Linked DNA regions of Homo sapiens. The protein of the gene in region 1 purifies or fractionates together with the protein of each later gene. This does not show direct contact. Each region holds a gene or a part of one and is shown in the gene's direction. Other genes may lie near its edges.

Region 1 (4,001 bases):
CGAGATTTGCTTGAACCCTGGCAAGAATCGCTTGAACCCGGGAGGCAAAGGTTGCAGTGAGCCAAGATCACGCCACTGCACTCCAGCCTGGGCGACAGAGCAAGACTCTGTCTTTAAAAAAAAAAAAAAAAAGAAGAATGGGATGACCAAATGACCAGTGTGACTGAGTTCAGCAGTGGGTGAGGATCATTAACCCCTCAGATGAAAGAAATTATTGGAGCAGTCACTGTTTACTCGACAGATGTTAATTGAGCACTAAAAGGAAGGATCAAAAACACCAAAGAGTAATGCATGTGATCTGAAAATGAAAATTGTTGGCCAGACATGGTGGCTCACGCCTGTAATCCCAGCACTTTGGGAGGCCAAGACAGGTTGATCACTTGAGGTGAGGAGTTAGAGACCAGTTTGGCCAACATGGCAAAACCCATCTCTACTAAAATTACAAAAATTAGCCGGGCATGGTGGCACGCACCTATAATTCTAGCTACTTGGGAGGCTGAGGCACAAGAATTGCTTGAACCCGGGAGGTGGAGCTTGCAGTGAGCCAAGATCATGCTACTGCACTCCAGCCTGGGTAACGGAATGAGATTTTATCTCAAAAGAAAAAAAGATATGAAAATTGTCGCCGTTGTGGTGGTTCACTCCTGTAATCCGAGCACTTTGGGAGGCTAAGGTGGGAAGATCGCTTGAGCCCAGGAGTTCAAAACCAGCCTGGTCAACATAATGAGACCCTGTGTCTACAAAAGAAAAAAAGGTTAGCTGGGTATGGTGGCACATGCCTGTAGTCCCAGCTACTCAGGAGGCTGAAGCCAGAAGGATCACTTGAGCCCAGGAGTTCAAGGCTGCAATGAGCCATTATTGCATCACTGTGCTCCAGCCTGAGTGACAGCATAAGACTCTGTCTCAAAAAAACAAAAAAAGAGAAAATTGGCTGGGCACAGTGGCTCACTCCTGTAATCCCAGCACTTTGGAAGGCCAAGGCAGACAGATCACTTGAGGCCAGGAATTCAAGACCAGCTGGGCAACGTAGCAAAATCTTGTCGCTACAAGAAATACAAAAATTCAGGTGTACCGGCGTGTACGTGTGGTCCCAGCTACTTGGCAGGCTGAGGTAGGAGGATCGCTTGATCCTCCTGGGAGGCGGAGGCTGCAGTGAGCCAAGAATGTGCCACTGGACTCCAGCCTGGGTGACAGAGTGAGACCCTGTCTCAAAAAAAAAAAAAAAAGAGAAAATTATGTACCAGGAAGTTCAGGACAATAGTTCACTATGTGTTCCAGGCAGAGTAACTTGGGGGATGAGGTGCTAGGGTCTTGACATGGAAATTGGACTATCATTTTTAGTCATAGGACTAAAAATGGATCCAGATGAGCACATGAAGGGAGAGTTGCCCAGATTCAGGGTATGTGGGAAGAGAGAGTGGTTAAAGATACTTGTGAGATTGAAAATATTTGGGAATTGGAGAATGCTTAGTTGAGTGTGGTGATGAATTCAATTTCAAAGGAATAAGGGCCTCTGCCTCCCTTTGAGGCATTTATACTCTTAACACAGTGGTTCTCAAGCTACATGTTACCCTAGTGAGCCATTTAAAAACAAGTTTGCAAGCCTTACCCTCCAAAGATTCAGCTCGTCTGAGGCCTCCAGGTGATTCTATGATGCATTCAGCATTGAAAACTACTGTTGGTGACTCTCGAGTCAGAGCCCAGGCACATGCATTTTAGCAAGCTGCACCAGTGATTCCGACCACCCAGACTTGAGAATTGCTCTTGGTAGAGGTTGGATGAACAATGTTCATTTTGATTTGGGATGAAATTGGGAACTCTCACAAGGCTTTGAAGTGATGCAGCAATTCAGTAATTTTGTTTGTTTTACTAAGTAAATATTGATTGTATGATTATTGACGTTCTTTTACCTTGGTAATTTACCAAAGCTGTATTTTGATCCTTCGGGTGGTTTCACCATCATGTGTAAGTGGTGGAAATACCAGTTCAAAGAAGACCAAAACAACAAAGTGGAGCAAAGATTGGCAAATGGTTTCTGTAAAGGGCTAGATGGTAAATATTTCAGGCTTTGCAGATGTTAGGGTCTCTGCTGTAACTACCGAACTTACTGTAGGGGGAAAGCAGGCACAGCCAATGTGCTAACAAATAGGCAACTCTGATGCAGAGCAAGACTTCTTTCCCCAGCCTGCTCCCACTGTCAGCCCCAGGAGGTGAAGGCCTGTGGGTGGACTCTAAGAGATCCATAAGAACCTTTGGAACTATGGACAATGACAGATCTCTGTGTGTGTGCATGCTTTATTTTCTGGTCCTCGACCTGCCAAAAAGCTGAAACTTGCTACTATCATACTACTGTTAAATTACTTGAGGGGTGGGGTGTTAGATTCTGTGAGGATATAAAACCAGATTGATTTTGGGGCATGGCTGGATTTTGTACTTACTGAAATTGAATTGTGGGTCTTTGTGACATTTATATACTCCTGTTGTTTTAAATAGGAATTTTATGGAGAAAATATAAAAGAGTCTCCTGATTATGAAAGGATCATCAATCTTCGTCATTTTAAGAGGATACTAAGTTTGCTTGAAGGACAAAAGATAGCTTTTGGTGGGGAGACTGATGAGGCCACACGCTACATAGGTAATGGAAATTCTCCTTTTCCTATGGGAAGATGGCAATTTGGCAGTTTTTGCTGACACTACTTATTAACACTAGATAAACTATTAAATATATAGCATTTAATTGTTAAAGTACTAAATCCTGCTTTCTGGTATACTGTACCTGTAGCTTTTGTTATAAACTATTTAAAATGTCTGTGTTTCTGTGTATTGAATGATGCCACCAGCGTTGCTCCAGTTGTTCATATTTACACATAACTCCTTTTTTCCTCCTAACAATCCTGAGAAGCAGAATAGAACTTGATGTAATTATCTGTAGTTTGTGGATGGGAAAACAGCACAAAGAAGGAAATAGCTTGGCCACTATTCCACAATTAACCAGTGACGGTACCATTCCAGAAATAATGTTTTGGTCCATCATGCTTGACCTTATTATTTGTGTACCTTCTTTGTGCTTTTTCTTCTTTGCCTTGAATATGTATTACTTTGAATGTTAAGCACATTTTTCTACAGTAACATATAAGGTGACAGAAAAATTAGACACATTTTGCTGGCAAAGAAGCTGCACCACCTAGCTTTACTTATCCCCTTTATCAGATAAGATGCTATAAGTCACCAAAAAAAAAAAAATCAACTTTAAAAAAAAAAACTTAAAAATGAAATAATAAGCAGAATTGATTCTCTTATAATTAGCAGTCCCGAGGTTCTCCTGAGCTAGATAATTCAGTGGCCCCGTGGTACCATCAAAAAACCCTGATTCTTTGTACTAGGATGCAAAAGAAAACAATCCTTGTGCCTTCTATCTCTCTTGGTGGCAGCCCAGATTGAATTGGGGAATACATCTGTAGAAAAAAGAGAAAACAGACTCTACTTGTTTCACCTCTCTGTTCTCCCATCCTCAGCATGTCCACATTGCCTATTTCTAGGCTAATGAATGGTAAGAGGAAGGGGCTATCCTGATTAGCTTATAGACTAATTAGGACTTTCCCCTGACTTCGAGCTGGGATCATCTTACCTGAGCATGGCTATGCAGAGGAAGTAGACACTCAGCCCAAATTGTTTCTCTGACCTGAGGAAGATGTGGGCAATGGATTTGGAGTGGCAGTTTATATACCCCCTGGAAGTGGTGCTGCAAGAAGCTGTCCCCAGCCACATTGCCAAGATAACCTATTAGAAACTGGGGGTAAAGGAAAAGTGCCAACTTGTTATTGTCAGATGACTTCTCTTTTGGTTGACGAGCCAGTTTCTTACTTACAGCATCTTTTGGAGTACTGCTAGTTGGTGACTTACATTGGCAGCAGATGCTGGGACACTTTGTCTAGCCTCCCCAGCATCTGTTTCACCCTCCTTTCTTGTGCCTCTTCCCCATGGTAGATGGAACAGTGGAC
Region 2 (4,001 bases), on another chromosome or scaffold:
CACATTACTCTAGGCCTACACAGAGTCAGGAAGGTCCCGGTGGAATGTCTTTAGAGGCAGTAACACATAGGGAACTGTCATCTCTTATGATAACAGTGCCTTCTGGAATACCTCCTGAAGGACCTGCCTGAAACTGTTTTACAGCTAATTTTTAAATTTTTAAATAAGTGGATGAGTACACTCTAAAGATAAAAAGTATAGGATAGCAAATACATAAACTGGCACATAGTTTATTATCAAGTATTATGTACTGCACATAATTGTATGTGCTTAGCTTTTATACTACTGGCAGTGCGGTAGGTCTGTTTACATCAGCATCACCACAGACAGATGAGTAATGCATTCATTACAACAGCTGTGACATCACTGGGCTACAGGCATTTTTCTGCTCCATTATGTGTAATGTTAGGGGACCATGGTTGTATATGTGGTCTGTCGTTGACCCAAAACGTCTTTTTGGGGCACATGACTGTATATAAATGCATAAAAGATGTGACTGCAGATGACTCCTGTGTTATGCCATCCAAGATTAAGCACCCTAGAATAAAGAGAAATTCCAGAAGTACCTTGATTGGCCACATAGGACCCAAGAATGTGATGTGCCTACTCTTCTGCTCCGCTAGCTAGGCAGATAGGGTACTTGATTGGCAGCACCACCAAAATCACATGGTTGGAATGGAGGAGAAGCAGTTGCCCTCCAGGAAAGGTGGCAGTGGTGCTGGGGTGTTTTAACCTTTGTTTTTTCCGTTGCAGTTCAGCAAGACGCTTCCAGTTACTTCCTGCTCTTAAAAAAAAAAAAAAAAAAAGAATAAATCTCTCATGACTCTATATCCTTCTTGACACCTAACCAAGAGAAATTGAGATGACAGTTAATTGCAAATTAATAAAGAAGGCCATCATCTACTCAGCCTTTACCTAAGTGGAATCCTGTCTTTTGCGCATTTAACTTACAAGAATTTACCTGCATCAGTCAGTTATGTGAAGAAGAAAAGGGAATATATTTCAGCGTACACAAGGCCCTTGTGCTTTTTAGGAGGAGTTCTTTGGAGCTGAAGTGGGTCTGAGAAGAGACATTCTCATGATAGTGGAGACAGTATTATAGAAGCTGGAAGTGATCATTTTTCTCTGTTATTTATTTCACTTATTACCTCACACACATATTGATATAAAACTGATCAATAAAGTTAGAATTTCTACATTATCTAGATATTTGTAGACTTCGTTCATATTATTGTTTTGTATATTGTGATAGGGGATTAGATTTTTCTTTTCTAGGCTGGAGCTGATTGTCTGACAATTCATAGCAGTAACTTAGCACTCACTGTATACAGGAAGGTCTTAGGCACTGTTCCTTCCCCTTACTTTTCTTTTTAACATTTTTTAATCTGTATGTACTTATGATCACTCTCCTCATTTAGACATTCACCAACAACAGAAAGAGAAACAGAGGGTTGGGCTTTTTCGTCGTGGCAGTTCTGGCACTGTGAGCTACAATTACCTAAATGTGCCTTCTTGGAAAGAAATTCCAGGGTCAAGTAAAGCAGCCCATCCCAGTATATAGTAATGTTTCTCTAAATAGGGTCTGTATCTAAATGAATAAGGTGAAAATTGAGTACCCTCAAAGTACCCCAAGAGGGAGTCATATCAGAGACTGACAAGCGGTGGGTCTCTCAGGAAGCCCCATACGGCCAGATCTTGTTTTTCCATGTTGGAACTGCATGGCGTTTGTTATTTTGAGCACAGGTGACGTGAACTGCTTGGGTGTGAGGCATGTGAGAACTGAGACATAGAACAGCAGCTGACCATCTCCTATTCTGTGCCCACTGTGAAGCAAGAAGTTATTGAGTGGAGGTATGCAGAATCATGAATCATGATTCATAGAATCATCTATATGAATCATTTCTTTCTCTCCTTCCCGTTGCTGAAGATAATAGATGAAATCCTGCAAATTGAATGGAAGTATGGTACATTTCCACTGTATTCATCTTGGCCTCTAAGCTGAATTAACGTAAAAGAACATAAAACATCTGAGATTGTGGGATTTGCATCATGTTATAAATGAGCTAAGTGATTTAAAAATATCTCTCCTAGATGCAAAGAATGGAACTTGCACAGATGGAGGCGTTTTGGAGTAGTGTAACTAACCATACTTTGTATTACGTGACCAGAACTGCTATTTGAGATTCTGGAAGCCAGTGATGCAGTCTTGCTTGGGTATTTACCTAGGGAGGGAGGGAGGGAGGGAGGAATGGGTGGATGGGTAGATGGGTGGGTTGATCAGCTGCTGTGTCATATCGGCACGGGGAATAGAATGGTGAACAAGGCAGATCTGGTCTTTGCTCTCTCATGGAACCTGCATTCCAACTGGGGGCAAGGAATGGTGGTTTAGACAATGAGGAAATCATTACAATGTGGTAAGTGTAGTAAAAGAGGAGAACGATGTTATGGGTGCATACTAACAGGAAACAGCCTAGTTGAGCAGGGCAAAAAAAGGCCTTCCTAAGGAAGCAAAGTTTTAGCCGATAGTTGATAAATATGACCTGCAGTGGTTGACAAGCTTGACTACATATAAGTAGTATTCAATTATAACTTGGCTTCTTATGGTATAGATTCCTATATGCTGTGAGTCAAATAATATCCTCTGGAGCTTAACAATTACAAGTAATAACACTGATAGATTTAATTTGCAACACAGATGTTATTCCTGTCTCTTAGTTCCTATGTTAATCAAACATTTTTCGAATGTCTACCTAGCTGTGCAAGCCAGTAAGCCCAGTGATGTGGAATATTCAAAGGAGCATGGCCCCATTTTTATTATATAGCTGGGGAGAAAAGAGTCACATGGTAAATTAACTAATGAATCAGCATGAGGAAAGAGCCAAGCCACTGTTTTAAAAGAAGACATGTTTTCTGAATTCAGAGGATGGTTAGGGAAGGAAGAGGTCATAGGCAGATCCAGTTTGAACGGTGCCCAGAAGGAAGAAAGGAAGTTAGATAAATGTAGAGAAAAAGGAAAGGAAAGGGAAGGTGAATCAGCTTGAGCAGACATGAAGGGAAAGTGGAAGCTATTCATGAAGGACTCTTAGTGCAAAAATAATAAATTCAATTGTAAGGGAAGGAGGCAGAAGGATCAGCTCGTGTGATATCTGGAGTCACAGGCTTAGAATTTGGGATTTTATCCTGGAGGCATTGGGAATCTGTTAAAAATAAGTCCACTTGTGCTGGGCGTGGTGGCTTACACCTGTAATCCCAGCACTTTGGGAGGCTGAGGCGGTCAGATGGCTTGAGCCCAGGAGTTTGAGACCAGCCTGGCCAACATCATCTCTATGAAAAATTCAAAAAATTAGCTGGGCATGGTGGTGTGCGCCTGTAGACCCAGCTACTTGGGAGGCTGAAGTGGGAGGATTGCTTGACCTGGGAGGCAGAGGTTGTAATGAGCCGAGCTTATGCCACTGCACTCCAGCCTGGGTGACAGAGGGGGAACCTGTCTCAAAAAAAAAAAAAAAAAAGTCCATTTGCCAGAAGGTAATAGAAAACTAATAGAAGTTAACCCACCATTGCATTTTATTTTTCCCTTTACAAAGCAAACCACAAAACAAAACAAAGGAATGAAGAGAAATGCTTGGATTGGGAAGGCCAAAAATAAAATTTGCATGTAATGTTGTACTATATCATGATTTTGTGATTGTTTTCTAGCATTATATAGTAAATAAAAACTTGATTCTATTTCATTGTAATGTGAAAAAGTATCTCATATGACACTTTTAGGAGGAAAAGAATGTCAGGATTAAACAGGATCATGGAGCTTGAGAACAGTTAGGAATAAATGTTTCCCAAGGTGAAAACTGGTGAAAAGCCAGGCATGGTGGCACAGGCTGGTAGTTGCAGCTACTTGGGAGACGTGAAGTAGGAGGATCGCTTGAGGCCAGGAGTTTAAGGCTAACCTGGGCGACATAGCAAGATCCCATCTCTTAAAAAAAAACTGGTGCAAGTTTAACTTG
Region 3 (4,001 bases), on another chromosome or scaffold:
TGGCAAACTACACTGGGAAAACAGGTATCACAGCCATCTAAACTCTAAAGTAGTTTTTCTTGTTTTATGGAACCTTAATACTTTATGAGCAGAGTCTTAAAATCATCTTTTTTTTTTGAGACAGAGGCTCACTGTGTTGCCCAGCAGGCTGGAGTGCAGTTGCAACATCTCGTCTCACTGCAACTTCTGCCTCCCGGGTTCAAGTGATTCTCCTGCCTCAGCCTCCCGAGTAGCTGGGATTATAGGCACCTGCCACTATGCCCAGCTAATATTTGAATTTTTAGTAGAGACAAGGTTTCACCGTGTTGGTTGGTCAGGCTGGTCTTAAAGTCATCTTTTAAAAAAACCATCAATTAAAAAACAGATTTGAGTTTTGGAACCAGAAAAGGACCTTAGAGATTTTCTAAGTTAATCTTTCCAACTTTCAAATTAGGAGATAGGCCCACGCTGATTAAAAGATTTGTCCAAGGTCATAGGCTAGTTAGTGATAAAGCTTGGACTAAAATATAAGCTCTGGTTACCTACAATTTTTAAATAAAAGGATAAAGTTTTCCAAGCACTACCCAATCTGCACTTGGATTTTTTTTTTTCTTCCAGATTGCTTTGAAATGAACCAAGTTGCAAATTCCTTACTTCTCAGCCCTTAAAGCAAAAGAAGCTCTGGGAACATGGATCAGCATGCTTTAGGGGTGGATTTACAGCTTTTTTTTTTCTTGCTTCCCCACCTCATGAAAATAAGTTGCTGTCAGATATCTGGCCCTAGTAACTCTATATCAGAGAATTTGGGGAAATAAATCCCATTGTTCATATTGAAGTAATTTACCATTATTATACACTAATTGTTCTTTAATTTTAGCAAAATTAATGAACAAAAATTTATAGAGCATTTATAAATCTATCTTCAAAGTTTATTCATTATTCATTGAACATATCTACAGTGTTGATAGCAGGTATCAAAGAAGTTTAAGACAGTCTCTACTCTCAAGGAACTTACAATCTCATTGGAAAGACAAGATATACACAGATGAAACATTTAAATAATTATACAATCCAGTAAGTGCTTTAGAAATTCAGAGAAAAGCAGTGATCATTGTGGGCTGGAGTGGATGGGGAGACTCCATAAAGTAGGTGGGATTTGTACTGATTTTCAAAGAATGGATGGGATTTTAAGTTAAAAAAAAAAGGGGGGGGTGGGGGAATATTTATGGCTGGGAAGGTAACAGCAAAGCGTGGAAGTGAACATCATACAGGCTTAATGGGGAACAGGGAGGATACCAGTCTTCCTAGAACTTCAGGAGGAGGAGGAGGGGGGATAGAATTGGAGCCATGATAACGAAGGGATAGTAATATGGTACAAGTAATATTTTGGACAGAGAGAGTATTTGATCTTGCTGTTAATCTTTGCTTTAATTTTATGGTTTTAGGCATGTCCTAGTTCAGATAAACATGCTTTAGTAACTCCTTGGCTCAAAGGCGATATCCTTGGTGAGAAATTGGTCAACTTGGCAGATTGTCTTTGTAATGAGGACTTGGAATCCAGGGTATCTTCAGAATCTCACTTCTCAGAAAGATGGACTCTTCTAAGCTTGGTATTATCCCAACATGTTAAAAATGGTAGGACAAATATGGCTTTTGTTTTCTAATGGGGAATAGTCCATTTCTCCTTTGTGGGGGATTGCATGGGGCTCAGCTTATGTGTTATTGGTTAAAAATAACAGGACTTACTCATTCAAATTTTTTTTTTTCTTTTCTTTTCTTTTTTCTTTTTTTTTTTGAGACTGAGTCTCCCTCTGTCGTCTAGGCTGGAGTGCAGTGGTGTGATCTTGGCTTACAACATCTGAGTTCAAGTGATTCTTGTGCCTCAGCTTCCCAAGTAGTTGGGACTACAGGTGCATGCCACCATGCCTGGCTAAATTTTATATTTTTAGTAGAGACGGGGTTTCGCTGTGTTGGCCAGGCTGGTCTCGAACTCCTCACCTCAGGTGATCTGTCTGCCTCAGCCTCCCAAAGTGCTGGGATTACAGGCGTGAGCCGCTGCGCCCAGCTCATTTACATATCGTAATATTGTAAGCACCCTAATTGTTTATTAATCTTCATACCATGACTTAGAAGATATTTAATATTTTTAGTTCTATATCCTAAAGGGTTTTTTTTTTTTAGCTCATAAAGTTGACTCATGACTTAAAGGGTTTTCAGTGTACAAACTTGCTCACCCTAACTGTAGACCATTTCTGTTTTCTACTTAATTTAAAACTGCCTTTTTTACTTGAGGGCCTTTATGTGTGAGAGAATGTGTTGATTTGTTGATAAAATTTTGTCTAATACATTTTAAAATCCAGGAAAGACCCATAGAATTATTAATCCAAAGTAAGATATTTAAAAATACACGTTAATATTTTTATTTTTTGTCTGTTTGAACCTTTTTTTCTCCAGATTACTTGATTGGAGACGTATATGTTGAAAGAATCATTGTTAGACTTCATGAAACTTTATTCAAAACAAAGAAATTATCAGAAGCTGAAAGCAGTGACTCATCAGTGTCTTTTATCTGTGATGTGGCCTATAACTATTTCAGCTCAGCGAAAGGATGCTTGCTAATGCCATCATCTGAAGATTTATTATTAACTCTCTTTCAGTTATGTGCTCAGAGCAAAGAAAAAACACATTTGCCAGGTAATAGCCTACTGCTCAAATGTTTTGTTGGGAATCTCCGGCTCTGACCTTCATAGTGAGTGTAAGTGCCCAGGCTTTATTAATTGAATTATAATGTGTTTGAAAGTTTAAAGCATTTTGAGTAAAGGGCTACAGTCTTAAACACTTTCAGCTCTAGAAAGCAAGTTAAAGATGTACGTAGATGTTATTTCTAAAGATCTCACTTGATATTCAAAGAAATTTGGAATGAGCCATAATTGATTAGGTGGAATCTTAGTCCATTCAGTAGTTCTGGCATGTTCCTTAATTTCTTGATGTCTTAGTTTCCTCATTTGTAAAAGGGGGATAATAATATCCCTTTATTATAGTAAAAACATTCAATCTTTGGTGTATATCAAAATAGAATTGAAATTATCTTTTTAAGGACTATATTCTTGCCTTATATGCTAATTCAGACTTATTTGTGAAAGGAACATAAAAAAATACTATCTATAGAGAGCTCTCCTCCTCCCACCCTTCATTCTTTCCTTTCTTTTTTTCTTTCCTTCTTCCTTCCTCTTTCTCTCTCTCTTTTTTTTCTGCCCATCATTGGCTACCAACCCTTTCTTAAATACTAACTTCTGTATTTGGAAATGGTGTAATAATTTTTTTAAAAATGTCTCCAAAAGGACAACTCTTGTAAATAAGTTCAAGCATAAAAAATGTAACTTTAAAAATCTTACCATTTTACATTTATATGATACGTGCTAGCTTGTATGATTGCATGTTTATGACACAGTTGCTTTGTTTGGCAATTGAATTTTGAATGGCAATTTAAAATTTTTCTTTTTTAAATGGTATTTAAAAAAATCTCAGATCTGTAGAGTTGTTTCAAACATTTTGTGCTGATGAGAGTTAATTCAGTGAGATTACAAATTCCTGTTGACATCTTGATTTTAGATTTTCTTATCTGTAAACTGAAAAATACTTGGCTCTCTGGTGTAAATTTATTGGTTCATCAAACTGACAGTTCATATAAAGAGAGTACCTTCCTACATTTGTCTGCTCTGTGGCTGAAGAACCAAGTTCAGGCTTCATCTTTGGATATCAACAGGTAACCTTTTTTGAGCTTGGTTTCAGTGTCTCTTTTATACTTGAACAGTGTCCTTAAATTAGATTCCATGATCAGTGTGAGTGCCTATGAAAAATGACTTGTAGGGCTCGTCCCTATAATCCCAGCTACTCAGTAGGCTGAGGTGGGAGGATCAGTTGAGACCTCCAGGAGTTTGAGACCAGCCTGAGCAACATAGTGAGATGCCATCTCTTAAAAAAAAGAGAAATGAAAAGTGACTTGTTAGGTAACAAATCTA
Region 4 (4,001 bases), on another chromosome or scaffold:
ATAAGTAAAAATTCAGTATTAAGTGTAGGGACAGTATAAAAAATTACTACTGTATTGTGAAACTTCCTTATTTTTTCCAGCTCTTTGTGTCAGGAAGGATGTTCTTGAGTTGGATTGTGCAAAAGTTCATTCTGTCTAAAAGTTGAATTTATCTGTTTTTCTGCCTCATTTTTGCTTTTTAATTAAAACTTTTGCTAAATTAGAGGTGAGAAAATTTATTCTAAAATGTTTGCTGTGGTCACCAGAACTCTTTTAATAAGGTATATCTGACATAGCTCCTTTGCTAGAGGAGAAAAACAAAATACAGTTTCTGTTGCTTTCAGCAGGCCATCATTGGAAGTTTTATAAATGTACTTATCTGCTTGGGCATCTTAGCAAATATTTAAGAATAAATAAGAGCCTGGAGGGCATGAGACATTTTTATCCCAAAAGGAAAACTTTCCTCCTTTTTTTTGTAGTATTTTTACACTTAGAATATTCCTTCTTTACCTTTTCAATAATTTTGCCAGGTACAGACAAGCAAGGAACTCTAATACCTTTTAATTTCTCTGTTCTTTATGATGTCTGGCACATAATTGCTTCATAAAAGTTTGTTGAATTGAATTTTATACAGTCAGTTTAGCACCACCAAGTGGCAAGTCTTTGAATGCTCTTGATATATTTTGCTTCCTATGAACACCTGATTCCCAGCTAAGTGAGGGTATGATTGTTAATTTTTTTTTGAGGCAGGACTAATTTCTTTCTTTTTAGTGAGAATGTCCTCATGTATGTATGTATTTATTTTTAATTAGGTTTTTACTGTTTACAACAATGGACTTTCTATGTAAATTATTTTTTATACAGCTTTTTTTTTTTTTTTTTTTGCCCTGAGACATGGCCTTGGTCCGTGGCCCAGGCTAGAGTGTAGTGTGTGATCTCGGCTTACTGCAGCCTCCGCCTCCTGGGCTCTAGTGATCCTCCCACTTCAGCCTCCTGAGTAGCTGGGACTAAAGGCATGCACCATCACACCCAGCTAGTTTTTGTATTTTTTGTAGAGATGGAGTGTTGCCGTGTTGCTCCGTCTGCTTAGAACTCTTGGCCTCAAGTGATCCGCTCACCTTGGCCTCCTAAAGTTCTGGGATTACAGGTGAGGCACTGTACCTGGCCTATACAGCTATTTTTGAGATACAATTGATATGATAGACCACATGTATTTAGAGTATACAACTTTGACATTTGTGTACACCATGAACCCATGAACACAATTAAGATAATGATGTTTTCACCACCTCTGTTAGTTTTCTCGTGACTCACTGTACCATCACTCCATGTGTCCTCAGGCAACCACTGAGCATTTTTTGGTCACTATAAATTAGTTTTAATTTTCTAGAACTTTATATAAATGGAATTATATAGTATATACTCTGTTTTTGTATGGCTTTCTTTATTCAGGATAATTATTTTGAAATTCATGGTGTTGTATGTATCATTAGTTTTTTTTTTATTTCCAAATAATATCCATTGGGCCAGGCACGGTGGCTCACGCCTGTAATCCCAGCACTTTGAGAGGCTGAGGCGGGTGGATCACGAGGTAAGGAGTTCGAGACCAGCCTGACCAACATAGTGAAACCTTGTCTCTACTAAAAATACAAAAATTAGCTGGGTGTGGTGGTATGTGCCTGTAATTCCAGCTACTCGGGAGGCTGAGGCAGGAGAATTGCTTGAACATGGGAGGCAGAGGTTGCAGTGAGCCGAGATTGTGCCACTGCTCTCCAGCCTGGGTGACAGAGCGAGACTGTCTCGAAAAAAAAACCCCACAAATAATATTCATTGTATGGGTATACCACATTTTGTTTATCTAGTCATGTGTTTGATAGACATTTGGGTTATTTCCACTTTGACTGTTACAAATAAAGCTGCTCTTAGGCCAGGTGCCGTGGCTCACACCTGTAATCCCAGCACTTTGGGAGGCCGAGGTGGGTGGATCACCTGAGGCCAGGAGTTCAAGACCAGCCTGACCAACATGGAGAAACCCTGTCTCTACTAAAAATACAAAACTAGCTGGGCATGGTGGTGCATGCCTGTAATCCCAGCTACTCGGGAGGCTGAGACAGGAGAATCGCTTGAATTCAGGAGGCAGAGGTTGCGGTGAGCCAAGATCTTGCCACTGCACGCCAGCCTGGGCAACAAGAGCGAAACTCTGTCTCGAAAAAATAATAAAACAAACAAATAAATAAAATAAATTAAAGCTGCTCTGAGCATTGGTATATGTGTTTTATGAAAATATGCTTTCATTTTTCTTGATTGGATACCTGGGAATGGGGTGGCTGGATCATATATATTAGTTGTGTGTGTAGCATTTTAACACACTGCCAAATTGTTTTCCAAAGTAGGTGTAGTGTTTTATATTTCCACTGGCAGTGTATGAAAGTTCCAGTTGCTTCATATTTTTGCCCATATTTAATGTCAGTCATTTTAATTTTAGCCATTCTAATAGGTGTGTAATAGTGTTTCATTATGGTTTCAGTTTACATTTCTGTAATGACTAATGGTGTTGAGTATTTTTCCATGTGCTTATTTGCTGTCCTTGTATCTTCTTTGATGAAGTGTCTGTTTAAATCTTCTGCTTATTTTTTTTCAAACTGTGTTTTTTTGTCACTGAGTTTTTAGTGTTCTTTTTATGTCCTGGATTTTATATTCTGGATACAAATCCTTTTAATACAAGTTCATTTGGGTCTTTTTAAAAAAATTATTTATTTTTATTCATCTTATATAAAAGGGGGGCCAAATCTAAGAAAATAATGTTATGTCAAAGTTTGTTTTTTAAAGCATAAACTTTCAGAGTTTGTTTTAAGGTTAATACATAGAGTGCTAGCTTTTTAGTCACCTGAGAATCAGGAAATTCACTTGGACGTAATTCCCTGTGGTAACAAAGAACTATGGCTTCCTATGGGTTTGTCAAGCTCCTAGGCTTCATTCAGCCTGAAATTATACTTTTCTTGTTATGTATAAATTAAATAAAATCTATACAACTGTCTGTTCTTCTGTTGCCTCACATCATGTCTATAAAAACAGCATTTAAAGTTTGCAGGAAATAGAATTTTGGCCTGTTACAAAGCAAACACTTTGTTTCTTTAACTCAGAATTCTGGAAATGCAATCAAGTTCTAGTATTGTGACTGCCAAAATATTTTGTCATCAGATATTAATTTTTTTCAAGTGTCTGACTCCATACAAGAAAATAATAAAAGTATCAGAAGTTAACTGTGATTATAAAAAAAAAAAAAAACAAAAAAAAAACAAAAAACTTCAGTGTCCATAGGGTTGTTCCTCATGGTTTGTTAGGATACTCCTGCCTGATCCAAGTGCATCAGGTCTGAGACTGTTCTTTGTTCCACGCTTCTATCTGCCAGAAGAATCTTTTTAGGTAAGGAGGCTATCATAGGAGGCAATGGAGCTTCTAGCTGTTGTCCAAGGAATGAAAGCAGGCGCCTCCAGCTGAGCCACTTCCCATGAACATAATTCCTGTAATCAGTCAAAACACTCCATGGGCCTCTTCAAGGGAAGATTCCAAACTCATTCCAAAAGCAACTTCCATTACTCCAAAGAGCGAAAGAGAGAAGGTTCTTATGGTCAGCTGTAGATTCAACTTCATTATCACGTTACAGTGGCTGTCCAGATTGATGAAAATAATACTTTGTGAATCATCAGTCAGTACCGTAAGCTCCTAAGCTGCATTGGAGACATCGTCAGCTAGTCGGTAGTAGTTTTCCATCAGCAACTCTATCTCCTCTGCATGGTCAGTCCCAGTACTGCTCTTTTCAAAGACTCGGGGGTCACTCCATTTTGATAGAGCTCTTCTAGCAACTCTTTCTCATCCAGGATCTCCAAAATTGACTCTGAAAATTTTAATATCTGTTTCTAACTCTAATAGACTTTTGCCATTCTGTAGTAAAATGTGGAGTTTGCTTCTGTCTATAGAAGAATGTTTGGGGTCCACCAAAGCTTCCAGCGTCTTGAGGA
Region 5 (4,001 bases), on another chromosome or scaffold:
CATAGAAAAGGTACAGTAAAAATAAGGTAGAAAAGATTAAAATGGCATGCCTGTATAGGGCAGCTCCATTAAAATCTTTTTTTTTTTTTTTTTTGGAGACGGAGTCTCTCTCTGTCGCCCAGGCTGGAGTACAGTGGCATGATCTTGGCTCACTGCAAGCTCCGCCTCCCGGGTTCACGCCATTCTCCTGCTTCAGCCTCCCAAGTAGCTGGGACTACAGGCGCCCGCCACCACACCTGGCTAATTTTTTGTATTTTGTTTAGTAGAGACTGGGTTTCACCATGTTAGCCAGGATGGTCTTGATCTCCTGACCTCGTGATCTGCCCACCTCGGCCTCCCAAAGTGCTGGGATTACAGGCGTGAGCCATTGCGCCCGGCCAGCTCCATTATAATCTTATGGGACAACCATTGTATATGTTGCCTGTCACTTACCAAAACATCATTATGTGACACAGGACTGCATTTGACCTCGAATCTTTGTATTAAGGTCTACTTCTAGGGGAACCCTGAGGTACTGCCCAAATCCACCAGGGCCCAGGAGCTGCTCAGCAATCTCCTCCACCCTCCCTGTGCAGGTTCATGGCCACCAGCGACCTGATGTCGGAGTTGCAGAAGGACTCCATCCAGCTGGACGAGGACAGCGAGCGCAAGGTGGTGAAGATGCTGCTCCGGCTCCTGGAGGACAAGAACGGTGAGGTGCAGAACCTGGCTGTCAAGTGGTGAGTGTCAGCCTCGGTGGAGCAGGAGAGGGGGCCCTACCTTGTGTGGGAGCATCCTGGGGACCGCTGTCCCTTTGGGGTACAGCCTCGCAGAGGAGACCTGCTGAGCAGCTCTCGTTGAATGGTACCTTAGTCTGAGTTTTCCCAGAAGATGCTGAGACAAGGATTCAAATCTAAGTTTATTTGGGAGGCGCTCCCAGGAAACATGGTAGAGGAGTAGGGAAGTGAGGCAGGAAAGGGAAGAGGACCAATCAAGGGTATGGTACGAAGCAAGTGACCACAGTGGGCCTGATGAGCTTAACCCCATGGGGACCTCTGGGACACAGTATAGGACATGTCCCTTGGACTTTTCCCACTCAAAGGGTAAGGGAGCTGGGGTATTAATCCACCAGCTCCCTGGTAGTCATTGGTTAAGGGCTGCTTCTGGGGTAGGATGGAGGGTTGTCCACTGCCTGCCACCTCCAGCCAGAGAAAGCCCTCAGACAGATGTAAATGCTGGGAAGGTCAAGCTGACACACATCAAGGTGGTAAAGGCTTAAAGGCTGGGTGCGGTGGCTCATGCCTGTAATCCCAGCACTTTGAGAGGCCAAGGCAGGTGGATCACCTGAGGTCAGGAGTTTGAGACCAGCCTGACCAACATGGTGAAACCCTGTCTCTACTAAATAATAATTAAAAAAAAAAAGTTGCCGGGCATGGTGGTGCGTGCCTGTAATCACAGCTACTTGGGAGGCTGAGGCAGGAGAATCGCTTGAACCCAGGAGGCAGAGATTGCAGTGAGCCAAGATTGCGCCATTGCACTCCAGCCTGGGCAACAAGAGCAAAAATTCCATCTCAAAAACAAACAAACAAAAAAGGCTTAGGGCACATGGGACTGGGAGAGGTCCTAAAAGCCCCAGCCTTAGATCACTGTGAGGCTGTGATCCTGAGACGTTGGCCAGTTATCTCGAGTAGAAAAAGACAAGACAAGGGTATGTGCAGAGCACGTGGGGATGCTTGTGTGGTAGGGTCATTCTCACACCCACACCTGAGAACCACTAGTGTAGGGCAGAGGTTGTCAAGCTTGACTGCAGGTTAGCATCACCTGGGTAATTTTAAATAGAATGCCAGGGATCAAGGGACAACAGGGTGAGAGAATTGGGCACTGTCTCTCAAACCACTGTCTGTGAGCTGGGTCCAGGCATTCTTCTGGGGCATGTTAATGAATTTGCAATGTGATCCCAAGAGCAGAGAGAATTCAGTAAAGGGTTTTATGTAGGAAGGTGACATGGACAAGTTTATGAGCTGGGAATGTCTTTCTGGTCATGGAGTAGACTTAGGATGGGTTTCACACCAGCAGAACCAATACCTTTTTATAACAAATAGTTTGTAATACCGTTTCCTATTAGGAAATGAAATTCATACATTATAAAACCTACCTCTACACATAATGCCCTAACCATAACCATAAAGGCAAACTAGAAGGAATGTAGTTTATAGTAATGTGTGTTTCCATGTATGCGTGCTTGGGCACTGTGATGGTAGAAGTGATGAAGTCACGAGAAGCCTGCATCTACACGTGAACTCATCATGAGTACAGATACAGACAGGGGGTGTTGGGGACTCAGGTTTCAGAATTGGAGGCCATTGCTCTTAGTGGCAAGATTTTCTTTTTTTTTTCTTCTTTTTTTTTTTTTTGAAACAGAGTCTCACTTTGTCACTCAGGCTGGAGTACAGTGGTGCAATCTCAGCTCACTGTGACCTCCCCCTCCCAGGTTCAAGCGATTCCCATGTCTCAGCCTCCTCAGTAGCTGACATTACAGGCATGCACCACCACACCCGGCTAATTTTTGTATTTTTAGTAGAGTCGGGGTTTTACCATGTTGGCCAGGCTGGTCTTGAACTCCTGACCTCAAGTGATCTGCCTGCCTAGGCCTCCCAAAGTGCTGGGATTACAGGCATGAGCCACCACACCCAGCCAGGATTTTCTAAAGTGAGTGACCATCTCCCAATAAAGTTTCCCAGAAAACAAAGTAGAATTTTCCTTCAATTTACCTGAAAATTGCATTCTTAGAAAATCTAAAATGTGGTATATTAAAACAATGTAAAAAAGTATTTTGTGTCTATGTATAAAATGAAATTTTAGACTCAGATAATTATAGAAAGGCCTTTTGCCTATACAAATGCCCATTGGGATGTTAGAACCTCTTGCGGGGCATGGACAGTGCTTTGTTTTACATTATTGTCTTTCTGCCGTTCCTGCTTCTCAACCCCTTAAAGGCCAGAAGTACTAACTCAATAGTTTTGATGACCAAGGACCCCCATAAATTGCCAAGGTGGTATTACTCCTAGTGGGAACCAGTGCTATAGGAGGTAGGATGGAGGACTCCATGATTACGTAGATAGAGGAGCTGTGGAGAAGGAAGTTGAGAGAACCAAGGTTTGAAAACCATGGTGCACATGCCTGTAGTCCTAGCTATTCTGGAGGCTGAGGCAAGAGGATCACTTGAGGCCAGCAGTTCAAGACCAGCCTGGGCAACATAGCGAGACACTGAAAAAAGAAATTAGCCAAGCATGGTGGCTTGAATATGTAATCTCATCTGTGTAGGAGGATCGCTTGAGCCCAGGAGTTTGAGGCTGCAGTGGGCTATGATCACGCCACTGTATTCCAGCCTGGGCAACAGAGCGAGACCTCATCTCAATAAAAATCAAGAAAAAAGAAAACCATTGTGCATTGCAGTCACCTGAAGCTCTTGTTGAAACCCTGTATTCCCTGCCCAGGGATTCAGATTCAGGGGATGGAGCAGGAAGGGAGCTGGGGCAGAGGATGAGACTATAGCACCCTGGAATCTGCATTCTGATGCACACCAATGTCTGAGAACCACTCAGGTAGGGCAGAGGTTGTCAGCCTCGACTGCATGTTAGAATCACCTGGGGAATTTTAAAAGCCCTCCCCCAACCCCCTCCAGGCCACATCTGAAACCAATTAACTGAGACTCTCTGAGGGCAGTGCCCAGGTAGGCATTTTTTAGAGGCCCAGGTGATGGCAACTAAGGCCAAGAACGAGGGCGTCTAGTGCCGCTGTTTTTACACTTTCCTGTGCATTGGAATCACCTGGGGACCTTGTGGCGCTACAGATCCTGGCTCAGTAGATCTAGGGTAGGGTAAGGCCTGAGATTCCACATCCTGAACAAGCTCCCGAGTGGCATTGCCAATGCTAACTCACCACCAAACTTTGAGAAGCAAGCCTCTAAGGCAGAGGTTCTCCAAGTGTGCTCCCTGGACCACCTACAGTATCAGCCTCAA
Region 6 (4,705 bases), on another chromosome or scaffold:
CACACACACACACACACACACACACAGACATTCTGTTGCAGTGACATAAAACCTCAACAGTATGGCTTTCTTATAACTAGGAATAAGAAACAGGAAGATTTCAACAAAAAATAAACTTAAAAATACTGAAACGAATTTGACTGTCTGTGTTGTTTCAGAAGGCTGAATAAGCACCAAAAAGAAGTTATAGGAATGTAGACCGTAGATGTCAGCTCAAAACGAAACAAACCCCTGATCCGAACAACCTAACAGCACTGGTTTGAATACTGAAACAGCTGTCAGGACCACTTGCGTGGAATGTCCTAGAGGCAACTGGAGCACCGGAGGGAAGGTTAATTACTTGATACTCTAATATGCCTTTCAACACGGATTCCACAAACACGACAATGCTGATTTTTGTCCTTTTTTTTTTTTTTCCTGAGACAGGATCAGCCTCTCACCCAGGCTGGAGTGCCGTGGTGTGATCTCGCCCCACTGCACTCTCGACCTCCTGGGCAATCCTTCCGCTTCAGCCTCCCGAGAAGCTCGGACCACAGGCGCAAGACACCACACCGGGCTTTTTTTTTTTTTTTTTTTGGTAGAGACAGGGTCTCACGATGTTGCCCAGGCTGGTCTCGAACTCCTGAGCTAAAATGAGGCCTGCCTTGGCCTCCCAAAGTGCTGGGATTACAGGCATGAGCCACAGCGCCTGGCCGACAAAGCTCATCTTACTGCATTTGAGAAGCCAGGTAGTCAAGGTCAGGCTTTCCTGTCCCTGCTTTCTCCCTCTCCTATGTGAGCCAGCCCTTAAAGAGTGAAAACGGCAAGAGCCAAAGACGGGTTTTCCTCCTAGGGTCTCCTAGCGACCCGCTGCCCAGATACATTTGGATGATTGTCCTGCAGAAGGCCAAAGCCCTCCATTATGAAAACGAAGCGTTCGGCCGGGGGCGGTGGCTCACGCCTGTAATCCCAGAACTTTGGGAGACCGAGGCGGGCGGATCACCTGAGGTCAGGAGTTCGAGACCAGCCTGGCCAACATGGTGAAACTTCGTCTCTACTAAAAGTACAAAAATTAGCCGGGCGTGGTGGCGGGCGCCTGTAATCCCAGATACTCAGGAGGCTGAGGCAGGGGAATCGCTTGAACCCGGGAGACGGAGGTTGCAGTGAGCCGAAATAGGGCCATTGCACTCCATCCTGGGCGATAGAGTGAGACCCTGTCTCCAAAAAAAAAAAAAAAGAAAGAAAGAAAACGAAGCGTTCTATCCTGGAATGTTCTCCCATGGCAAGAAGGAACAGAGAAGCAGGAGACAGAGATACTTTGAAAGGAGGTGCGCTCTGAGGAGGGGAAAGCGGGAAGAGCGATTCCAAGTTTAGGAAATCCTGCACGGCGCTGGAGCGTGGAAGGGCAAGGAGGAGCCAGGGGAGGCGGTGTGCAGGGCTGAGAACGGAGGGAGCGAACTGGCGTCGTGGATCTGCGGGTCCCCGGGCGGGCTGTACTAGGGTAGTGGGGAGAGGGCCGGGGGCACCGCGAGGCCGGGGCGCCGGACACCACGCATGCGCGGGGCTGGGAGCTTAGCGGGGCGCGCGGCTGCAGCAGTCTGGGCAGACCGCCTCGGCCTCGCCCGGTGCCGGCTGCGGCCGCCCCCGCCCCAGCGCGGCGGCCGGGCTCACACTAGTCCCCTCCCAGCCACCCGGAACCCGGCAGCCCGGCCAGACCCGCCGAGGCCGCGACGCCGGTGTCGACAGCGGCTGCGACGGCCCTGGGAGCGCGTGAGGCTCCGGGGTCGCGGCGGCGATTGGCCGGCCGCGGCGCCCGCTCCCAGAATGCAGCGCATGGCGCGTCATTGAAGAGAGACCATGATGGCGGCGGCGCTGGGGCCCCCAGAAGTGATCGCTCAGCTGGAGAACGCGGCTAAAGTTCTGATGGTGAGGACGCCGCGCCCCTCAGACCCCGGGATTCGCGGGCCCCCGGTCGGCCCTGCCACTCCAGGCCTTGCTGCTCGCTGGGCTGGCGACTGGCAAGGGCCTGCAGGGAGCCTGGAAGTGGAGGAGGAGGTGGCGGTGGCGTGGCGCAGGATTCTTCAGCCTACTTTCCTCCTGCCGTCGTCCCCTCCTTCCAGGAGCTGTCCCCTTCCCCTGGCTGCCCAGCACCCCAGTCGGGCGTGGGAATATAGTGGTGTAGCAAAGAGAATTTCTTCACCTTACACCCTGCCCCACAGACTGGGTCGCAGAGCAAGGCGCCGGGAAGGAGTTGGGGTTATCCCCGCAGGGCTTCGGTAGGGGAAATTTGTAGGGCTGTGTGAGCGCTCTTGGGGAGTTGGTGTCGGGAGGGATTGGATGGCACAGCCTGGGTGCTGTTAGCAACCCTTGTTTCCTGTGCATTCGCATCCTCTAGCGCTTCCCTGACATGCAGCCACCTCTGGAGTAATTGCAGCCGGCAGCACGTGGAAGGGCCGGGCCGGCTGGAGGGAGGGAGGGGAATCGTTGAGACCAAGGTCATTGGGGCAAAACTTGGTCTAGTGCTAAGCTCCTTAAAGCTCCCGCGATTTGGAGAACTGAGTCTATGCTACTCTTTGACTTCATGCTTACACTACAATAAGCAGTTTGATGAGATTGTTTACTAAGGGAATTTGAGAAGGCCGAGTCAAAGGATAAAAGTATTACATGCAAGGAGGAGAAGTAAGGATAAACTACGTTCAGTTAGTAAACAGTGTTTCTATTTGCTGGCTCAGCTTTGTTTTTGCAAATTATGACTTCGGTGTTTGTAGATGTTTTGGGAAGTTAGAGGTTCATTTGATACCTGGATTGATTCAGACTTTCTAAGAATTGGATACAGCCAGCTTTGTTACCTTTTTGGACTTTTTTCCTTTTGGTTTGGTGTTAGGGTGTTTGAGCATCACATTTGAGAATATTCGAACTAATTCTAGCGTAGTTTGTAGTTCTAATATTTTACACCAGATATTTTTGTTTCTTTAGAAATCGAGAAGTCTAATAAAAGCAGGATTTACTTGCTTCATTATGAATATTAACTTAATGTACGTTTTGTCACAAAACAGACTAGTGAAGGTTTTCACACTTTTGCAAATTAAGCAGAAGTAACTAGCTAGTATTCCCCTTAATAAAAGATTCTTAAAAATCCCTGACATAGAGCGTTTTGTAAAATTCCTGAAATTTTCCTAGGAGCTAGGGGCTCCGTTTTCATTGGATTCTGGAAGGAGTATGCCACCCAAAACACGGCTGTAGTTCTTACACTGATCAGGTAAAATCAGTGTCCTTCGTCACTGGCTTAATATAAACTAGTATTTGTGTTTTCCAATATCTTCCCTCTTCCCTGGCAAAGCTGCTTTTATCCCCTATAAGGAGTAGGTGAGAAGAATAGTAGTAAGTACCGTTTATTGAGTGCTAGATATTGGGCTTGATGCTTTACATACTTTACATATTTTATTAATTCTTGCAACAGCTTTGCTTTACAAGGTTGAGAAACTGTAAGTGGCCCGGGTTACACGATTACTAAATGGCTGAATTAGGTCTTGAACTCAGTTCTGTCTGGCTCTAAAGCTGTGTGTCTTTCCACTCTACCCCATCTGTCATATGTTGTATAAATAATTTGTCTAAATGCTTTTTATCTTTTCAGAGGAGAGTAGTATTGAAAAAAGTGTCATGTTATTAAAAACAGGAAATTACAGCCGGGTGCGGTGGCTCATTCCTGTAATCCCAGCACTTTGGGAGGCCGAGGTGGGCGGATCACTAAAGATTAGGAGCCCAAGACCAGGCTGGCCAACACGGTGAAGCCCCATCTCTACTAAAAATATAAAAATTAGCCGGGCGTGATGGCTGGCACCTTTAATCTCAGCTACTCTGGAGGCGAAGACAGGAGAATCGCTTGAACCAGGAGGCAGAGGTTGGAGTGAGCCGAGATCGTGCTGCTGCACTCCAGTCTGGGCGACAGAGTGAGACTTCATCTCAAAAAAAAAAAAAGGAAATGACTTTTTGGAAATTTCCACTTAAGTATTCAGAAATTTGTACCAAAGATGTGTAGAGTAGTTATTGTATTATTTCTTAATATGAAAGCTATATTCCAAATTATTAATAGCTACCATTTATTGAGTACATACTATGTTGGAGGCGCTGTGCCAAGCCCTTTACATATATTACTTTTTATCTCCAGTAACTCTGTGAGGTAGGTATTATTACTTTCATCTTCTTTTTTTTTTGACCAAGTCTCACTCTGTTGCCCAGGCTGGAGTGCAGTGGCACGATCTTGGCTCACTGCCACCTCCGCCTCCCGGGTTCAAGCGATTCTCCTGCCTCAGCCTCCCGAGTAGCTGGGACTACAGGTATGTACCACCACACCCAGCTAATTTTGTATTTTTAATAGAGACAGGGTTTCACCATGTTGGCCAGGCTGGTCTCGAACTCCTGACCTCGTGATCCACCTGCCTCGGCCTCCCAAAGTGCTTGGATTACAGGCGTGAGCCACTGCACCTGGCGTGTTACTTTCGTTTTCATTTTACAGGCTAAGGAAACTCCAACATGTAGATGCTAAGTAATCTACACAAATTTACATAGCAAGGGGTAGAGACTCAAACTCTGGTTTGTCTGTTACCAGTCTGTGGTTCTTAAGCTGTAGGATACTGGGACCAGAAAGGAGGTAAATTAATTCATCTTTGGCTAATTAAGGTTGTTAATGCTCCGTCAATTATTAAGCATTAAGCTACATATTTTA
Region 7 (4,001 bases), on another chromosome or scaffold:
CATATCTTAATAAAAAACAAGAGTCATACTAGGCACAGTGGCTCACACTTGTAATCTCAACACTTTGGGAGGCTGAGGCAGGAGGATCACTTTAGTCCAGGAGTTCAAGACCAGCCTGGGCAACATACTGAGACTCTCACTGCAAAAAATATAAATTAGCTGGGCATGGTGACACACACCTGTAGTCCCAGCTGCTTGGGAATCTGAGGTGGGAGAATTGCTTGAGCCCAGGAGGTCAGTGCTTCAGTGAGCTGTTACTGTGCTACCGCACTCCAGCCTGGGCGATAGAGGAAGACTCTCTCAAAAAAAAAAAAAAAACCAGAGTCATAAGAATGTGTACCTATTTAACACAATTGTGTGTTAATTGGGTTTAAGAAAATCCTCATTGCAGTTTTATTTGGAGGCAGGATGTAACAGATGAAACAGATAAAGAATGATAATAAGATAGCTTATAACAGTGTTTTACCACAGTCTTCACTGAAAGCCCGTGAAAGCATTTCACACATGAGGCAACAAAGGTACAGAAAGGGTAAGATTCTTGACTGAGATTATACAGCAGGTATGTGCCAACACAAAATATAAAAAGTAAACTTGCATTTTCCACAGACTTAGAGCAGTAGAAAATTAAGGAAGAGGTTAATATAAGCTGGAATCATTAAGAAAAACTTCATTCTTGGTGGTGGTAGTGGAAGGAACTGTGATAGGAAAGGAAATACACTTGCTACAAAAGGTATTAAGCCTATTTGTAGCAGTGGTTTCTCCCCCTCCTACCACCAATCCCAAATATGATAATACACAGGTTCAGAAGGGGACATTACAGGTTCTTGAGTAGGGGCCTAAAGTGATACTGTGTTTAAAGAAATGAGTGTGGCAATGTCATGAATAATAAATTGGGGAGGAGGGATAGGGTGGAGCAGAAGATCTTTGAGTAGCAAGACCTTTTGCAATAATTCAGATACAAAAAATGAAAGTCTATTCCACCACGGTAAATGGACTTGAAGGAACAGAGCTCCAGTATATTTTCCAGAAAGTGCTGGAAAATTTAGTAAATGATTAAATATTAAAGAGAAGGAATCAAAGGTCACTGATAGTGTTTTTGAGTCTGGCCAGGAAGGTGATGGTTCTTTCCAGAAAGTGGGAAGTTAAGCAGGTTTACATTAATCTTTTGGTTTGAGGCTTATTAAAAAAAATTTTTTTTAGTGTGTAATATATTAGCCCAGTTAAAAATTCAAAAGGTATTTATTGAAGTCTCTTTCCCACGCCAGATTCTGTCCGTACAGTTTCCCTTGCTAGAGGCCACTGACATCACCAGTTTCTTATATATCTTGCTGGAGGTATGCATATGTAAGCAAATATGCATACAATTGTATGTATTTTTTCCCTTTTATTGGTATAACTGGTAGCATACTGTATACTGTTTTGTGCTTTGCTTTTTTTTTCTTTTCCATCCGGGCTTTGAAGTTACATACAGTAAAATAAATGGAAAGAGTTTTTTTGTTTTTTTTGTTTTTTTTTTTTTTGAGACACAGTCTTGCTTTGTTGCCGAGGCTGGAGTGCAGTGGCGTGATCATGGCTTACTGCAGCTTTAACTTCCTGCGCTCAGGCTCCCACCTCAGCCTCCTGAGTAGCTGGGACTGTAGGTGTGCACACCATGCCTGGCTAATTTTTTGTAGATATGGGATTATGCCATGTTGCTCAGGCTGGTCTTGAACTCCTGAGCTCAAGCAGCCCACCTATCTTGGCCTTCCAAAGTGCTGGGAATACAGACATGAGTCGTCACACCCAGCCCATGAAAAGGTCTTAAAATGAACATCTGGGAATAGAGATAGGGTGAGACTTTCCGGCAGGAGATTCTAATTTAAGAATCATAAAAGGCCTAGCATGCCAGTAGTAGTCCCAGCTTTTCGGGGCTGAGGCAGGAGGATCACTTGAGACCAGGAGTTTGAGGCTATAGTTCGTGATGATCACACCTGTGAATAGCCAACTGCACTCCAGCCTTTTAAAAAAAAAAATCAGATGAATTATGAATTTTTAGCTACAAGGTAACCTCCTTTGAGGTAATAGCTATAAATTGAGAAAAGAACAGAGCTCAAGACTGAGTCTTGTTGATCTGACCACATATATTCATTCATCCAGAAATACCTCATCGAGTGCTGCTTCTGGCTGGTCACTATCTTTTCGTTTGGAATTTTTTTGGAGGCAGGGCGGTGGTTTTGAGATGAGACTGTCTCCCAGCCAAAAGCACGGTGGCATGATTAAGTCTCACGCAGCCTTGACCTCCTAGGTGCGATCCTCCCACCTCAGCCTTCTGAGTAGCTGGGACTGCAGGCGCATACCACCATACCTGGCTAATTTTTTTAATGTTTAGTAGAGATGAGGTCTCACTATGATGCCCAGGCTGGTTTCAAACTCCTGCGCTTAACAATTCTCCCTCTTTGGGCTCCAAAAGTGCTGGGATTACAGGCATGAGCCTCCATATCCAGCCAAGTTGGGATTTTTAAAGTAAGCTTTTGAAGAGTTTATGCAAAGTGATGACATGATCCAAAATACTTAATAGTATCAATCTGTGGAATTGAAGAGAAGCAATAAGTGGGAAACTCATTGGGAGATTGCTGCATAGTCCAAGCAAAAGATAATGTTGGATTGGATTGAGGTGATAGAGATGGACAGAGATGGATGGATTTTGTGATCTTTATTGAAGGTAGAATTGACAGGGCATGTGATGGATCAGTTATTGGTAATCAGGAAGAAGAAAGATCAGTAACCGTTGACTGTTTCCCAGGGTCAGTCCTCAGCATTGGAAAAGAACTCTAAATATAAACCCCATTTAGTTTCTGGTATTTTGACAAGATCAGAGAAAAGAATTTAAAGTTAAGAATGAGGGGCTGGGTGCAGTGGCTCCCACCTGTAATCCCAGCACTTTGGGAGCCCAAGGCTGGCAGATCACCTGAGGTCGGGGGTTCAAGACCAGCCTGGCCAACATGGTGAAACCCTGTCTCTACTAAAAATACAAAAATTAATCCGGTGTGGTGGCACACGCCTGTAATCCCAGCTACTCAGGAGGCTGAGGCAGGAGAATCACTTGAACCCAGAGGTGGAGGTTGCAGTGAGCCAAGATTGCACCACTGCATTCCAACCTGGGCAACAGAGTGAGACTCTGTATCAAAAAAAAGAAGAGCAAAAGAAAGTGATGATGAAAAGGTGCTCAGTTACCTTAATTCAGATTTCGTTGTTTACCTGGACCTTCTCTTTCAATGTTTACCTGGACCAAACATTGATTGTAGCCAAAATGGAAAAGGCATTGGATGGCTGGATAAAGGGTTTTGGATTTCATTCTGTTAGTAATATCCATTGACCTGACTGTAGATAGTACTATCTATAGATCTAGTCACCAGAAGGACCAAGGCATGGTTAGAAGATTGCGGCTTTGAACCCCATCCGCCATCCTCCAGAAGGGGAGAGGGGCTGAGGGTTTATTAATCACCAGTCGCCAGTGATTTACTTAATTATACCTGTTTAATGAAGCCTCCATAAAAGCCCATTAGGACTGGGTTTGGAGAGCTCCCAGATAACTAAGTGGAAGTTCCTGGAGGATGATGTGCCCAGGGAGGTAATGCAACCTTTGAGCCTCTTACCCCATACCTTGCTCTGTACCTCTCTTCATTTGTATCCTTTAAAATATCCTTTATATTATAATAAACTGGTAGATATAACTGTTTCCCTGCATTTTGTGAGCTACTTTAGCAAATTAATCAAATCCAAGGAGGGAGTCATGGGAAGCCTGATTTATAGCCGTTTGGTTGGAAACAGGTAAAACAACGCAGGCTTGCAATTGGCATTAGAAGTAGGGGGCAGTCTTGTAGGGCTGAGCCCTCAACTGTGGTATCTGACAGTGTCTCCGGGTAAACAGTGTCGAAGGTGAATTGGAGAACACCCACCTGGTGTCTAATATGGAACTGATTGATTATTGGTGGGGAGAAATCCTCACACTTCTTGGTGAT

Evidence for each region.
Region 2: the proteins of ALDH3A2 (region 1) and VPS8 purify together in Homo sapiens (affinity purification with mass spectrometry; 3 studies listed by BioGRID and IntAct, with this or other methods). This does not show direct contact.
Region 3: the proteins of ALDH3A2 (region 1) and LTN1 purify together in Homo sapiens (affinity purification with mass spectrometry; 3 studies listed by BioGRID and IntAct, with this or other methods). This does not show direct contact.
Region 4: the proteins of ALDH3A2 (region 1) and TBC1D15 purify together in Homo sapiens (affinity purification with mass spectrometry; 3 studies listed by BioGRID and IntAct, with this or other methods). This does not show direct contact.
Region 5: the proteins of ALDH3A2 (region 1) and CAND2 purify together in Homo sapiens (affinity purification with mass spectrometry; 3 studies listed by BioGRID and IntAct, with this or other methods). This does not show direct contact.
Region 6: the proteins of ALDH3A2 (region 1) and XPO4 purify together in Homo sapiens (affinity purification with mass spectrometry; 3 studies listed by BioGRID and IntAct, with this or other methods). This does not show direct contact.
Region 7: the proteins of ALDH3A2 (region 1) and PPP4R3B purify together in Homo sapiens (affinity purification with mass spectrometry; 3 studies listed by BioGRID and IntAct, with this or other methods). This does not show direct contact.

The regions. Positions count from the first base shown.
Region 1 is NC_000017.11:19,658,634-19,662,634, forward strand, and holds part of ALDH3A2 (aldehyde dehydrogenase family 3 member A2), read left to right. Parts: intron 1-2,493; coding exon 2,494-2,635; intron 2,636-3,366; exon of another isoform or gene 3,367-3,457; intron 3,458-4,001.
Region 2 is NC_000003.12:184,815,031-184,819,031, forward strand, and holds part of VPS8 (vacuolar protein sorting-associated protein 8 homolog), read left to right. Parts: intron 1-753; exon of another isoform or gene 754-1,851; intron 1,852-2,091; exon of another isoform or gene 2,092-2,414; intron 2,415-4,001. UniProt on the Homo sapiens protein: Plays a role in vesicle-mediated protein trafficking of the endocytic membrane transport pathway.
Region 3 is NC_000021.9:28,958,130-28,962,130, reverse strand, and holds part of LTN1 (E3 ubiquitin-protein ligase listerin), read left to right. Parts: exon of another isoform or gene 1-1,053; intron 1,054-1,424; coding exon 1,425-1,614; intron 1,615-2,433; coding exon 2,434-2,673; intron 2,674-3,591; coding exon 3,592-3,745; intron 3,746-4,001.
Region 4 is NC_000012.12:71,845,912-71,849,912, forward strand, and holds part of TBC1D15 (TBC1 domain family member 15), read left to right. Parts: intron 1-2,380; exon of another isoform or gene 2,381-4,001. UniProt on the Homo sapiens protein: Acts as a GTPase activating protein for RAB7A. Does not act on RAB4, RAB5 or RAB6.
Region 5 is NC_000003.12:12,802,913-12,806,913, forward strand, and holds part of CAND2 (cullin-associated NEDD8-dissociated protein 2), read left to right. Parts: intron 1-575; coding exon 576-719; intron 720-4,001.
Region 6 is NC_000013.11:20,899,870-20,904,574, reverse strand, and holds the start of XPO4 (exportin-4), read left to right. Parts: upstream 1-1,828; 5' UTR 1,829-1,836; coding exon 1,837-1,905; intron 1,906-4,705. UniProt on the Homo sapiens protein: Mediates the nuclear export of proteins (cargos), such as EIF5A, SMAD3 and isoform M2 of PKM (PKM2). In the nucleus binds cooperatively to its cargo and to the GTPase Ran in its active GTP-bound form.
Region 7 is NC_000002.12:55,607,187-55,611,187, reverse strand, and holds part of PPP4R3B (serine/threonine-protein phosphatase 4 regulatory subunit 3B), read left to right. Parts: intron 1-4,001. UniProt on the Homo sapiens protein: Regulatory subunit of serine/threonine-protein phosphatase 4 (PP4). May regulate the activity of PPP4C at centrosomal microtubule organizing centers.